Homo sapiens: one gene and its partners. The protein of the gene in region 3 interacts with the protein of the main gene of each other region in a pairwise test. Each region holds a gene or a part of one and is shown on either strand. Other genes may lie near its edges.

Evidence for each region.
Region 1: the proteins of TNFRSF10D (region 3) and SENP2 interact in binary tests that used the Homo sapiens proteins (3 or more experiments, as listed by UniProt).
Region 2: the proteins of TNFRSF10D (region 3) and INPP5K interact in binary tests that used the Homo sapiens proteins (3 or more experiments, as listed by UniProt).

What each region holds. Positions count from the first base shown.
Region 1 is NC_000003.12:185,589,199-185,592,848, forward strand, and holds part of SENP2 (sentrin-specific protease 2), read left to right. Parts: intron 1-915; coding exon 916-971; intron 972-3,650. UniProt on the Homo sapiens protein: Protease that catalyzes two essential functions in the SUMO pathway.
Region 2 is NC_000017.11:1,506,572-1,510,221, reverse strand, and holds part of INPP5K (inositol polyphosphate 5-phosphatase K), read left to right. Parts: intron 1-422; coding exon 423-539; intron 540-868; coding exon 869-1,044; intron 1,045-1,995; coding exon 1,996-2,107; intron 2,108-3,132; coding exon 3,133-3,242; intron 3,243-3,650. UniProt on the Homo sapiens protein: Inositol 5-phosphatase which acts on inositol 1,4,5-trisphosphate, inositol 1,3,4,5-tetrakisphosphate, phosphatidylinositol 4,5-bisphosphate and phosphatidylinositol 3,4,5-trisphosphate.
Region 3 is NC_000008.11:23,153,972-23,157,621, forward strand, and holds part of TNFRSF10D (tumor necrosis factor receptor superfamily member 10D precursor), read right to left. Parts: intron 1,009-3,650; coding exon 903-1,008; intron 1-902. UniProt on the Homo sapiens protein: Receptor for the cytotoxic ligand TRAIL. Contains a truncated death domain and hence is not capable of inducing apoptosis but protects against TRAIL-mediated apoptosis. Reports are contradictory with regards to its ability to induce the NF-kappa-B pathway.

The DNA of each region.
Region 1 (3,650 bases), on a different chromosome or scaffold from region 3:
CTTTATTACCATCATAATGTAGTTTGCGTGATAAAAATGAAGTTAAATATAACACTTGATTAAGATTTGTCTTTTTTAAGTTGTAGAACAGTTTTTTTTAACTCCCTTACACACACACAAAAGAAAAAACAGTAAAAAAGAATTGTCTTTTAAGGCTGTTCATATTAATACTGTCACCTAAAGTAAAAGATGGCTTTCTTTGGGGATCATTTTCAAAAGGAAATTGCTTGTTTGTTGTTTTTAAATCATTTCTGGAGCGAAAGAGAAAATACTGTCCTAAACTCTTACCTGGGTTCATTTACTAGCTAAGTGACTTTGGCCAGTTTTAAGTTTGTACTTTAACCAGATGGCAAATTATTATTTGGTAAGAAGTTTGTTTCTCTCTCAAATAGTTGAAACTGTAGCAGTAAGTCTTCGCATGTGAAAAGCCTACTATAGAATAGCATTCTCTCTTTTGTTTTGCTTTTATTTTTAGTTTTATTTCTTTTTAAAACAAGGTCTCACTCTTTTGATTAGGCTGGAGTGCAGTGGCATGACCTGGGCTCACTGCAGCCTTACTTCCTGGGCTCAAGTGATCCTCCTGCCTTAGTGTAGCTGGGACCACACTCACTTACCACCAAGGCTGGCTAATTTTTTATTTATTTTTTTATCGTAGAGATGAGGTCTTACTTTGTTGCCCAGGCTGATGTCAAACTCCAAGGCTCAAGCGATCCTCCCCCTTGGCCTCCCAAAGTGCTGGGATTACAGGCACGAGCCACTGTGTCCCACCAGCATTCTCTTTTAAAACATCAGTTGGATCTCATTTTATGACAAAGTGATAGAAGGGGGATGTGTTATATGAATAGTAAGTTTACTTACAGAAATGAATGTGTGTGTAAATCTATATATATATATTTTTTTCTTTCTCTTTTTCAGCACTCTGTTTTCTACAGTGGACACTGATGAAATACCAGCCAAAAGACCAAGATTAGGTACTGAATATAAATTTTAAAAATTTTTAGTTTTTAAATAGGAAAAATATATGCATGGAACAAAATTCAAAAGGTAAAAAGTATCTGGTAAAAAGTAAGTCTTGGCCGGGCGCAGTGGCTGTAATCCTAGCACTTTGGGAGGCCAAGGCAGGCGGATCACCTGAGGTCAGGAGTTTGAGACCAGCCTGGCCAACATGGCAAAACCCTGTCTCTACTAAAAATACAAAAATTAGCTTGCTGTGGTGGCAGGAGCTTGTAATCCCAGCTACTCGGGAGGCTGAGGCAGGAGAATCGCTTGAACCTGGGAGGTGGAGGTTGCTGTGAGCCAAGATGGTGCCATTGCACTTCAGCCTGGGGCGACAGAGCAGGACTGTGTCAGGAAAAAAAAAAACAAAAAAACTTAAGTCTCTTTCCTGGCCCGACGTGGTGGCTCAAACCTTTAATTCCAGCACTTCAGAGGCTGAGGTGGGAGGATCACTTGAGGTCAGGAGTTTGAGACCAGCCTGGCCAACATGGTGAAACCCCATCTCTACTAAACATTAAAAAATTAGCCAAGTGGTGCACGCCTATAGTCACAGCTACTCGGGAGGCTGAGGCACGAGAATCGCGTGAACCTGGGAGGCGGAGGTTGCAGTGAGCCAAGAATCTGCTACTGCACTCTGCACTCCAGCCTGGGCGACAGAGCGACACTCCATCTCAAAAAAAAAAAAAAAAAAAAAAAAGAAAGTCTCCTTTTTTTTTTTTTTTTTTTTTTTGAGACAGAGTCTTGCTCTGTCGCAGGCTGGAGTGCAGTGGCGCAATCTCGGCTCACTGCAAGCTCTGCCTCCCAGGTTCACGCCATTCTCCTGCCTCAGCCTCCCGAGTAGCTGGGATTACAGGCACCCACCACCACACCTGGCTAGTTTTTTTGTATTTTTAGTAGAGATGGGGTTTCACCGTGTTAGCCAGGATGGTCTCCATCTCCTGACCTCGTGATCTGCCCGCCTCGGCCTCCCAAAGTGCTGGGGTTACAGGCGTGAGCCACCGCACCCAACCCAAGAAAGTCTCTTTCCTATCCCTTTCTTATCTTTTCTAGAGGTAACTACTGTTACCAGGGACTTGTCTAATCCTTGCAGGTAAATAAGCCTAGGTGTAGACTGTGCATTTTAAAATTCTAAATCATTCTACAAAGAAAAGATACTTCTTATTTATTTATTTTTTGAGATGGAGTCTCGCTCTGTCACCCAGGCTGGAGTGTAGTGGTGCAATCTCGACTCACTGCAACCTCCACCTCCCGGGTTCACACCATTCTCCTGCCTCAGCCTCCTGAGTAGCTGGGACTACAGGCGCCCGCCATCATGCCCGGCTAATTTTTTGTATTTTTAGTAGAGACGGGGTTTCACCATGTTAGCCAGGATAGTCTCAGTCTCCTGACTTCGTGATCCACCTGCCTCAGCCTCCCAAAGTGCTGGGATTACAGGCGTGAGCCCCCGCGCCTGGCCCTACTTATTTTTAAGGAGGAAATGTTGTAAATGTTTCAAACTGAGGTGACTCTAGTTCAGATGGCTGAGGGAACCCATCTTTTCTATTTTTTTTTTTCGAGACAGGGTCTCATTCTGTCACCCAGGCTGGGATGCAGTGGCATAATCATGGCTCACTGCAGCCTCCACCTCCCTGGGCCCAGGTGATCCTTCCATCTCAGCCTCCCAAGTAGTTGGTTGGGCCTACAGGCACGTTATCACACCTAGCTGATTTTTGTATTTTTTTTGTAGAAACAGGGTCTTGCCACATTGTCCAGGCTGAAAATAGGCAGCAGTGGCATTTTGAAAGAATACTCCTGTCTTTAAGAACCGGTAATATTTCTTTTTTTTTTTTTTTTTTTTTTTGAGACAGGATCTTGCTCTGTCTTGATCTTGTCATCAACAATTTTTTTTTTTAATTTTGTAAGAGGCAAGGGTATCACTGTGTTGCCCAGGCTTCAGTGCAGTGGCACGATCGTAGCTCACTGCAGTCTCAAACTCCTGGGCTCACACAATCCTCCTGCCTCAGTCTCCTGAGTAGCTGGGACTATAGGCCCATACCACCACACCTGGCAAATTATTTTGTATGTGGATACTGAGTCTCCATATGTTGCCCAGGCTGATCTTGGAACTCCTGCCCTTCCAAAGTGCCGGGATTATGGATATGAGCCACTGTGCCCAGCCAAGTCTTTTACTTCAGTATATCTGAATGGATAAAGAAAATAAAAGTAGATTAAAGGAAAAAGGCATAGTAAAATGCTATAATAATATATTCCTCTTTCTCAAAAATGATTATAAATTTGGGTCTACCTCCAGATGTGGTAATTGAGTGTGGACATATTTGTGTTAATATTTCGTTTAAATTCAGTGAGTACTTATTGAGCATGTCTCAGTGCTAACCAATGTGTTAGGTTTTACAGAAAATACAAAAATTAGTAAGACAGGGTCTCCTTTTTTTTTTTTTTTGAGATGGAGTCTTGCTCTGTTGCTCAGGCTGGAGTGCAATGGCACATTCTCGGCCCACTGCAACCTCCGCCTCCCAGGTTCAAGTGATTCCCCTGCCTCAGCTTCCCAAGTAGCTGGGACTACAGGTGCCCACCACCACACCCGGCTAATTTTTGTATTTTTAGTAGAGACAGGGTTTCGCCATGTTGGCCAGGCTGGTCTCAAGCTCCTGACC
Region 2 (3,650 bases), on a different chromosome or scaffold from region 3:
TGCTGAAACCAAAAAATAATAGCTTTCAGATAATCCCCACAGCATCTATGAGATGGATTCCTACTTTATCAATGAGAAAATACACTGAGAAACTGCCTCAATGTCAAATACTAAGAATCAGAGCCAGGGTTTGAACCCAGATCTAACTTCAAAGCCAGTATCCTTAGCTTATCTTCTCTTCCCGCCACCCGCACGCCTAGGCGCAGAATCGAAAACCTCAGCCCCCAGAATGTATCATTTGGCAGCTGAGAAGAAGAATGGAAAGGCTTGAAACTCTGAGATTCAAACTGGGATATCGTAGACCCTGGAGCAGGACACTGCATGTAGCTGAGGGCTCTCTAGAGTCCCTAGCACGGAGCTTGGAAGGGATGCACTTGGCCTGTGTGGTTTAATGAGCGACCTTTGCCCTCTCTCTCCTGCAGGTCTCCCATGTCCGTATGCAGGGGATCCTCTTACTGGTCTTTGCCAAGTATCAGCATTTGCCCTATATCCAGATTCTGTCTACTAAATCCACCCCCACTGGCCTGTTTGGGTACTGGGTAAGGACTGAGCTATTGTCTGAGTCGTGAGCTGGGAAGGGCTGGGAACTGTGGAGCTGGGCAAAAGAAAAAGGAAGTGAAAGGAATCTTGGTCCTCTGTCCAGCCCAATGCATGTTTGTTCTTTTGCCTCAGAGTGGGCTTGCTATCCCTGAGGCCAGGCGAGGCGAGCTGGGCTCTGTGCATGGAGAGATCACCCTGGGAAGCTTAGTTACTGTCCCTAGGAGACCCTGCAGGAAGTGAGACTGTCTGCCCTCAGGTCCAGGATGTGGAAAGAGGGGTGTGTCCAACCCGAGTAGCTTCCCACTCTTCTGTTGACCTGTTCTACCAGGGGAACAAAGGTGGAGTCAACATCTGCCTGAAGCTTTATGGCTACTATGTCAGCATCATCAACTGCCACCTGCCTCCCCACATTTCCAACAATTACCAGCGGCTGGAGCACTTTGACCGGATCCTGGAGATGCAGAATTGTGAGGGGCGAGACATCCCAAACATCCTGGACCACGAGTGAGCCTGGGTCTGGCAGACCGTTCCCCGCCCTCTGCCCCACGCTAACCCCCACTAACCCCCACGAGTGAGCCTGGGTCTGCAGACCGCTCCCCGCCCTCTGCCCCACGCTGACCCCCACGAGTGAGCCTGGGTCTGCAGACTGTTCCCCGCCCTCTGCCCCACGCTGACCGCCACGAGTGAGCCTGGGTCTGCAGACTGTTCCCCGCCCTCTGCCCCACGCTGACCCCCACGAGTGAGCCTGGGTCTGCAGACCGTTCCCCGCCCTCTGCCCCACGCTGACCGCCACGAGTGAGCCTGGGTCTGCAGACCGTTCCCCGCCCTCTGCCCCACGCTGACCCCCACGAGTGAGCCTGGGTCTGCAGACTGTTCCCCGCCCTCTGCCCCAGCTGACCGCCACGAGTGAGCCTGGGTCTGCAGACTGTTCCCCGCCCTCTGCCCCACGCTAACCCAAGCCAGCATCCTCTGCTCCATCACGGATCCCCCAGCCAGTGTCGTCAGTGTTCTGGCTCCCACCCTCTCCCTGACCCTTCCCTGGTGCCCATCTGCTGTCTCCCCTTGCTTTGCCTGCCTGGGGTCCCCTTCCTCCAGCCCGTCTGTCTTGCTTAGAAACCCTGAACACTTGGGAACAGGTCAAGGACCTTGTGGCTCCTGAGGTCACCAGGAGGGCTTCTCAGCCTTTCCTCGTGACCAGTTAAGGAGAGGAAGGAAGGGCCACAGCCTGCTCTGTGTTTGCCAGAGCAGGCTCTTTGGTAGGTCTCTCCGGTTTGAATGGTGGTTTAGGAGCCATGAGAACAGTTCCAGAGGACCCACGCGTGCCCTGGCGTCTCACTTGCCCCTCAGGTTTTCTGTGCCCCAGCAGCCCTTGGGTTGAGCAGGCTGAGCCACCTGGTGATCTCCCTTCCCCGACTTCATCACAAATCCTCAGGCTGCCCTCCTTTTTTTCTGAAGCCTCATTATCTGGTTTGGAGACATGAACTTTCGGATCGAGGACTTTGGGTTGCACTTTGTTCGGGAATCCATTAAAAATCGGTGCTACGGTGGCCTGTGGGAGAAGGACCAGGTATCCAGTGAGGGGAGGGTCCCAGGGGGTGATCTGAGCCCACGGTGGGGGCCATGTGAGCTGTGCAGAGTGTTGCTAGATGCCCTCGCTGCTGTTTTCTTTTGCCCAGGTCTGGTGGGGGAGGCTGTCTAGCAGGGCTTCGCATCCAGGGGTGAGGCAGCCACGCCTGATCTTCACATGGAAAAGCCAGGGTAACAGACCCTGGATGTGCTTTAGAATAGAGAGTCAGATACAAAGCATGAAATGAATTATTTAAAAAAGAAGAATAGGGGCCGGGCACGGTGGCTTATGCCTGTAATTCCAGCACTCTGGGAGGCCGAGGTGGGTGGATCACCTGAGGTCGGGGGTTTGAGACCAGCCTGACCAACTTGGAGAAACCTCATCTCTACTAAAAATACAAAAAAAAATTCGCCGGGCGTGGTGGCACGTGCCTGTAATCCCAGCTACTCGGGAGGCTGAGGTAGGGGAATCGCTTGAACCCGGGAGGCAGAGGTTGCAGTGAGCAGAGATAGCGCCATTGCACTCCAGCCTGGGCAACAAAAGCAAAACTCCATCTCAAAAAAAAAAAAAGAAGAAGAATAGGGAACCAGAAGGGCTTTGCACCAGGTACCATCATGCGTCAGCCCATCGTGTCCCTGTCGTCTTTCCCATCCCCAGCCTCGTTTCCCTCTTGGAGGGTGAGGTGCCCCTTTGGAGAACCCTGGCTTCCCCAGGTTCCCCTCTGACACATGTCTGCTAGTGATCTCCCCTAGAGATGGAATTCCAAGTTGGGTCCCTGCAGTCTAAGGACTGGGAAACGGCAGACAGCTGCCTCCCCTGGGCCTTGGTAATGTTTCCGAAAGGATTCGCCTGCTTTCTGGTGGGAGTGGGCTGCTGAGTAGTCACTGGGGCAGTGAGGAATTGGAGTGGCATTGCTTGACTCTTGCCCCATTTGTGACGGCATGTGCTGATCCCTTGAATGGAGTGTGGTACTGGGCCACTGGGTCGAGACTACTGGGAGACGGGGACTATGACTTTGTCTGCAGCTCAGCATTGCCAAGAAACATGACCCGCTGCTCCGGGAGTTCCAGGAGGGCCGCCTACTCTTCCCGCCCACCTACAAGTTTGATAGGAACTCCAACGACTATGACACCAGGTGAGGAGGGAGTGGGGGGCCAGAAGGTCTAGGAAGTCAGGTTACACTGACCCTGCTGGCATGGGAACTGTCTCAGAATAGAAGTGTTAGGGGGGGCAGGAATTGGTCTAGTCATCCCCTCTCCAGAGTGGCACCTCCTGTCCACTTCATGAGGCGCTGACTCGGGGAGCCGTCCCAGATCTCGAGAGAGTGGGAGGAAAGCCAGTGCCAGCAAGGGCAGGAGAGGTGTGTAGGGGGTGGGGGTGTTACAGATAGAACCAGAGGAGAGGGTGGAGCAGCTGCCTCCTGACCTAGGAGGGACTGCACTTCAGCTTCGGGAAACCCCAGACCTTCTGGTCCCCAAACGGGGCAGAAAGCTTGGCCCAGCCAGTTACTGGTATTAAGGACGCCTGCCCCAGCCTGTGAATG
Region 3 (3,650 bases):
GTGTCCATCGATGATGAAAAGGTAAAGAAAATGTAGTACATAGACACAATGGAATACTATTCAGCCTCAACAAAGAAGGAAATTCTGTCATTTGTGACAGCATGGATGAACCTGGAGATATCATGCTAAGTGAAATAAGCCAGGCACAGAGAGACAAACACCTCATGATCTCACATATGTGGAATCTTAAAACTTGATCTCATAGAGGTAGAGAGTAGAATGGTGATTACCAGCGCTGTATTTGCACGGTGGGTTGGAGAGATGCTGGTCAAAGGATACAAAATTTCAGTTAGACAGGGGGAAATAAATTCAAGAGATGTATTGTGTGACATGGTGACTACAGTTATTAAAACAATGTGTTGTACAGTCCTGCCTTCTATTCACAGGGAATATATTCCATGGAACAAACTCTGCACTTACACAAGTCCCTGATACAAATTGGGATAGTATTGCATACACCCCAGGTACATATGCTTTAAATCATTTCTAGGTTACTTGTAATACCTAATGCAATAGACATGCTATGTAAATAAGTGCTTTACTGCATTGCTTTTTATCTACTTTTATTGACATGTTATCATTTTCATTATTTTTTCCACATATTTTTGATCTGTGTTGGTTGCAACCACGGATGCAACACCCACAGATGAGGATGGCTACAGAACCCACAGGTGAGGAGGGCAAAGAGGGCTTATCCCAGGGCTCTGTATCCATACAGCTGAAAATTGCTGAGTAGACTTTTAAGTGTTCTTACAACAAATACACGATAAGTATGTGAATTAGCTTGATTTAGCCATTTCACAATGCGTGCATATTTCCAAACATCATGGTGTACACCATGAATATATACAATGTTTATCTGTCAACTAAAAATAAACTGATTTTTAAAAATAAGAGTGCACCTGCTGGACACTCCTCCTCCTTGAGGCTGCGCCTCTGTTGCTGTGGGGCCACTGTCTGCTGGGGAACTTCGTCCTGCCGGGGGATGGTGGCAGAGTCAACCCGGACCTGTGGGGACAAGGCAGAGATGGGCTTGAGTGGCTTCCAGACCTTACCTCTCCCAGGCTCCGTCTCACATTCCCTTCACCCCAAGTGACAAAACCCATGAGAGCCTGGACTTTTTTCCCATTCCAAACTTTCATTCTTTTGCATCCGTGTTTGTCCCCTGGCCTGTTAGGTAGCTATTTTCTATAAAGAAAAACACCTCCGTATCCTTTTATCATATTATAACATAAAATATATTTACCCCAGAAAATATGAGCAGAAGAGTTTTTTTTTTTTTTTGATAGAGTCTTGCTATGTTGCCCAGGCTAGAATGCAGTGTCTATTCACAGGTGTGATCATAGTCTACTACAGCCTGGAACTTCTGGCCTCAAGTGATCCTCCCGCCTCAGTCTCCCAAGCAAGTTGGGTAACAGGAACACACCACTGTAGTTGGCAAGAAAAGATTTTATAAGAACACAAAAGGCCAGGCGCGGTGGCTCAGGCCTGTAATCACAGCACTTTGGGAGGCCAAAGTGGGTGGATCATGAGGTCAGGAGATTGAGACCATCCTGGTTAACACAGTGAAACCCCGTCTCTACTAAAAATACAAAAAATTAGCTGGGCATGGTGGCGGGCACCTGTAACCCCAGCTACTTGGGAGGCTGAGGCAGGAGAACGGCGTGAACCCAGGAGGCGGAGCTTGCACTGCACTCCAGCCTGGGCGAAAGAGCGAGACTCTGTCTCAAAAAAAAAAACAAAAAACAAAAAACAAAAAAACCACACATATGAGCCCTTCAAGCAGAAATAGCATCTAATGTATTTAGTTTGACCAAGTGTTTAATTGACCAGTGGGTGAATATTCTCTCTCTCTCTCTCTCTCTCGCACACACACAGACACACACATAAAAATACACATTTTTACAAATGAGGGTTACAATATAACCTTAAAGAAAGTCAGGATATAGCATCAAACATTAAGTAATTTCTGCTTCACAAAGGACCTTGACAAGCTGTTCCCACTAAATATCAAAGAGTGACAGAAAAAGATAAAACAGCAATTCAGGGATTATGGCCATGATCTCTGTGTTATAAATGACGACGAGAAGACAACTGGAGAATCGGAATAGAGTCTGCATATTAGATAGTGGTAATGTGTTGATGTTAATTTCCTTGTTTGTAGAAAGTACACACTGAAAAATTCAATAATAGCTTTCATCATGCCAACAGCTATTTTTCAAATTTTTTTTGCATAGTTTTTGTAACTTTTAAGTTGGGAGTGTGTAAAAGTACAAAATTAATTTAATTGTAAATTTACATTTAATTAAATTTAATATAATCTTGCTCCTGAGAAAAAACAAAATGGTTACAATAAAAGCTACTTACCTTGGGCTCTGTTCAACTACCTGGCTCTCAGCAAGACAAAATGTAGCTTTCTTCCACATGAAAGCCTGCCTAGTAGTTGGTGACAGTGAAGCTAATGCACATTTCCCAAATCCTCCCTTCTAGAGCTGGGGTCCCTCTAGGTTCAGGCGATGTCTCTGTCACCTTTCTCTGCTCTCACACCCTTACTCCTTTTCAAGAGCAACTATTCATTTTCTCAACTCTTTTTTTTTTTTTTTCTTTTTTGGAGACGGGATCTCCCTCTGTCATCCAGGTTGGAGTGCAGTGGTGTAATCTCTGCTCACTACAATCTCTGCCTCCCGGGCTCAAGTGGTCCTCCAACCTCAGTCCCTAAGTGGCCGGGACCACAGACAGGAGAGTGCCCCAATGCCTGGGCTAATATTGGTGTATTTTATACAGCTGGGGTTTCATCACGTTGCCCAGGCTGGTCTAACTCCTGAGCTCAAGCGTTCTGCCTGCCTGAGCCTCCCAAAGTACTAGGATTACAGGCGTAAGCCACCACACACAGTCCGTTTTGTCAGTTCTTTTTGTGGTTTCTATTCTATTTCCTTGATTTATGTTCCTCCTTGTTACTTTGGTTTAAATTTATGCTTATATTTTATGATTGATTAATGTAGATCTTCAGGCCATAAATTTCACATATTTTTCTTTTTTTGACAGCTTTAACGAGACACAAATCACATAATTAGTAATTATGATTATTCATATAATTCACCCATTTAGTCTACATTTCAGTAGTTTTTTAATATACTCATAGCTATGCAATCATCACTATAATCAATCTTAGAATGTTTTTATCACTCCAGAAAGGAACTGCATACCCTTCAGGAGTAACTCCCCATCTCCCCAATTTTTTTAATAGACACATTGAAAGCTGTATTATTTCACTCCGAGCACTGTTAGCCATTTCCCACCAGTTTTGCTGTTATATTATTATTATTTATTTTGAAACATTTTACCTTCCCTTTTGATTTCTTCTCTGAACCACAGATTTTTTAGAAGTGTATTGTTCAATAACCAAATTTTAGAATTCCCTATGGATACTATTACTGACTTCCAGTCTCGTTTCATTAAGTTTAGAGGTCATATCGCGTGTTTTATATCCCAGAACCCAGTCTATCTTGGTGAAAGTATCATGAGCATAGAAAGGAATCAGTGTTCAGTGGATGTTCCACTCCTGCTCTTTAAATGTCAGTTAAGTCAAGGTGGTTGATAGTGTGCAGATCGCTTGCCACTTTACCGGGGTTTTCATCTGACCGTTCTGT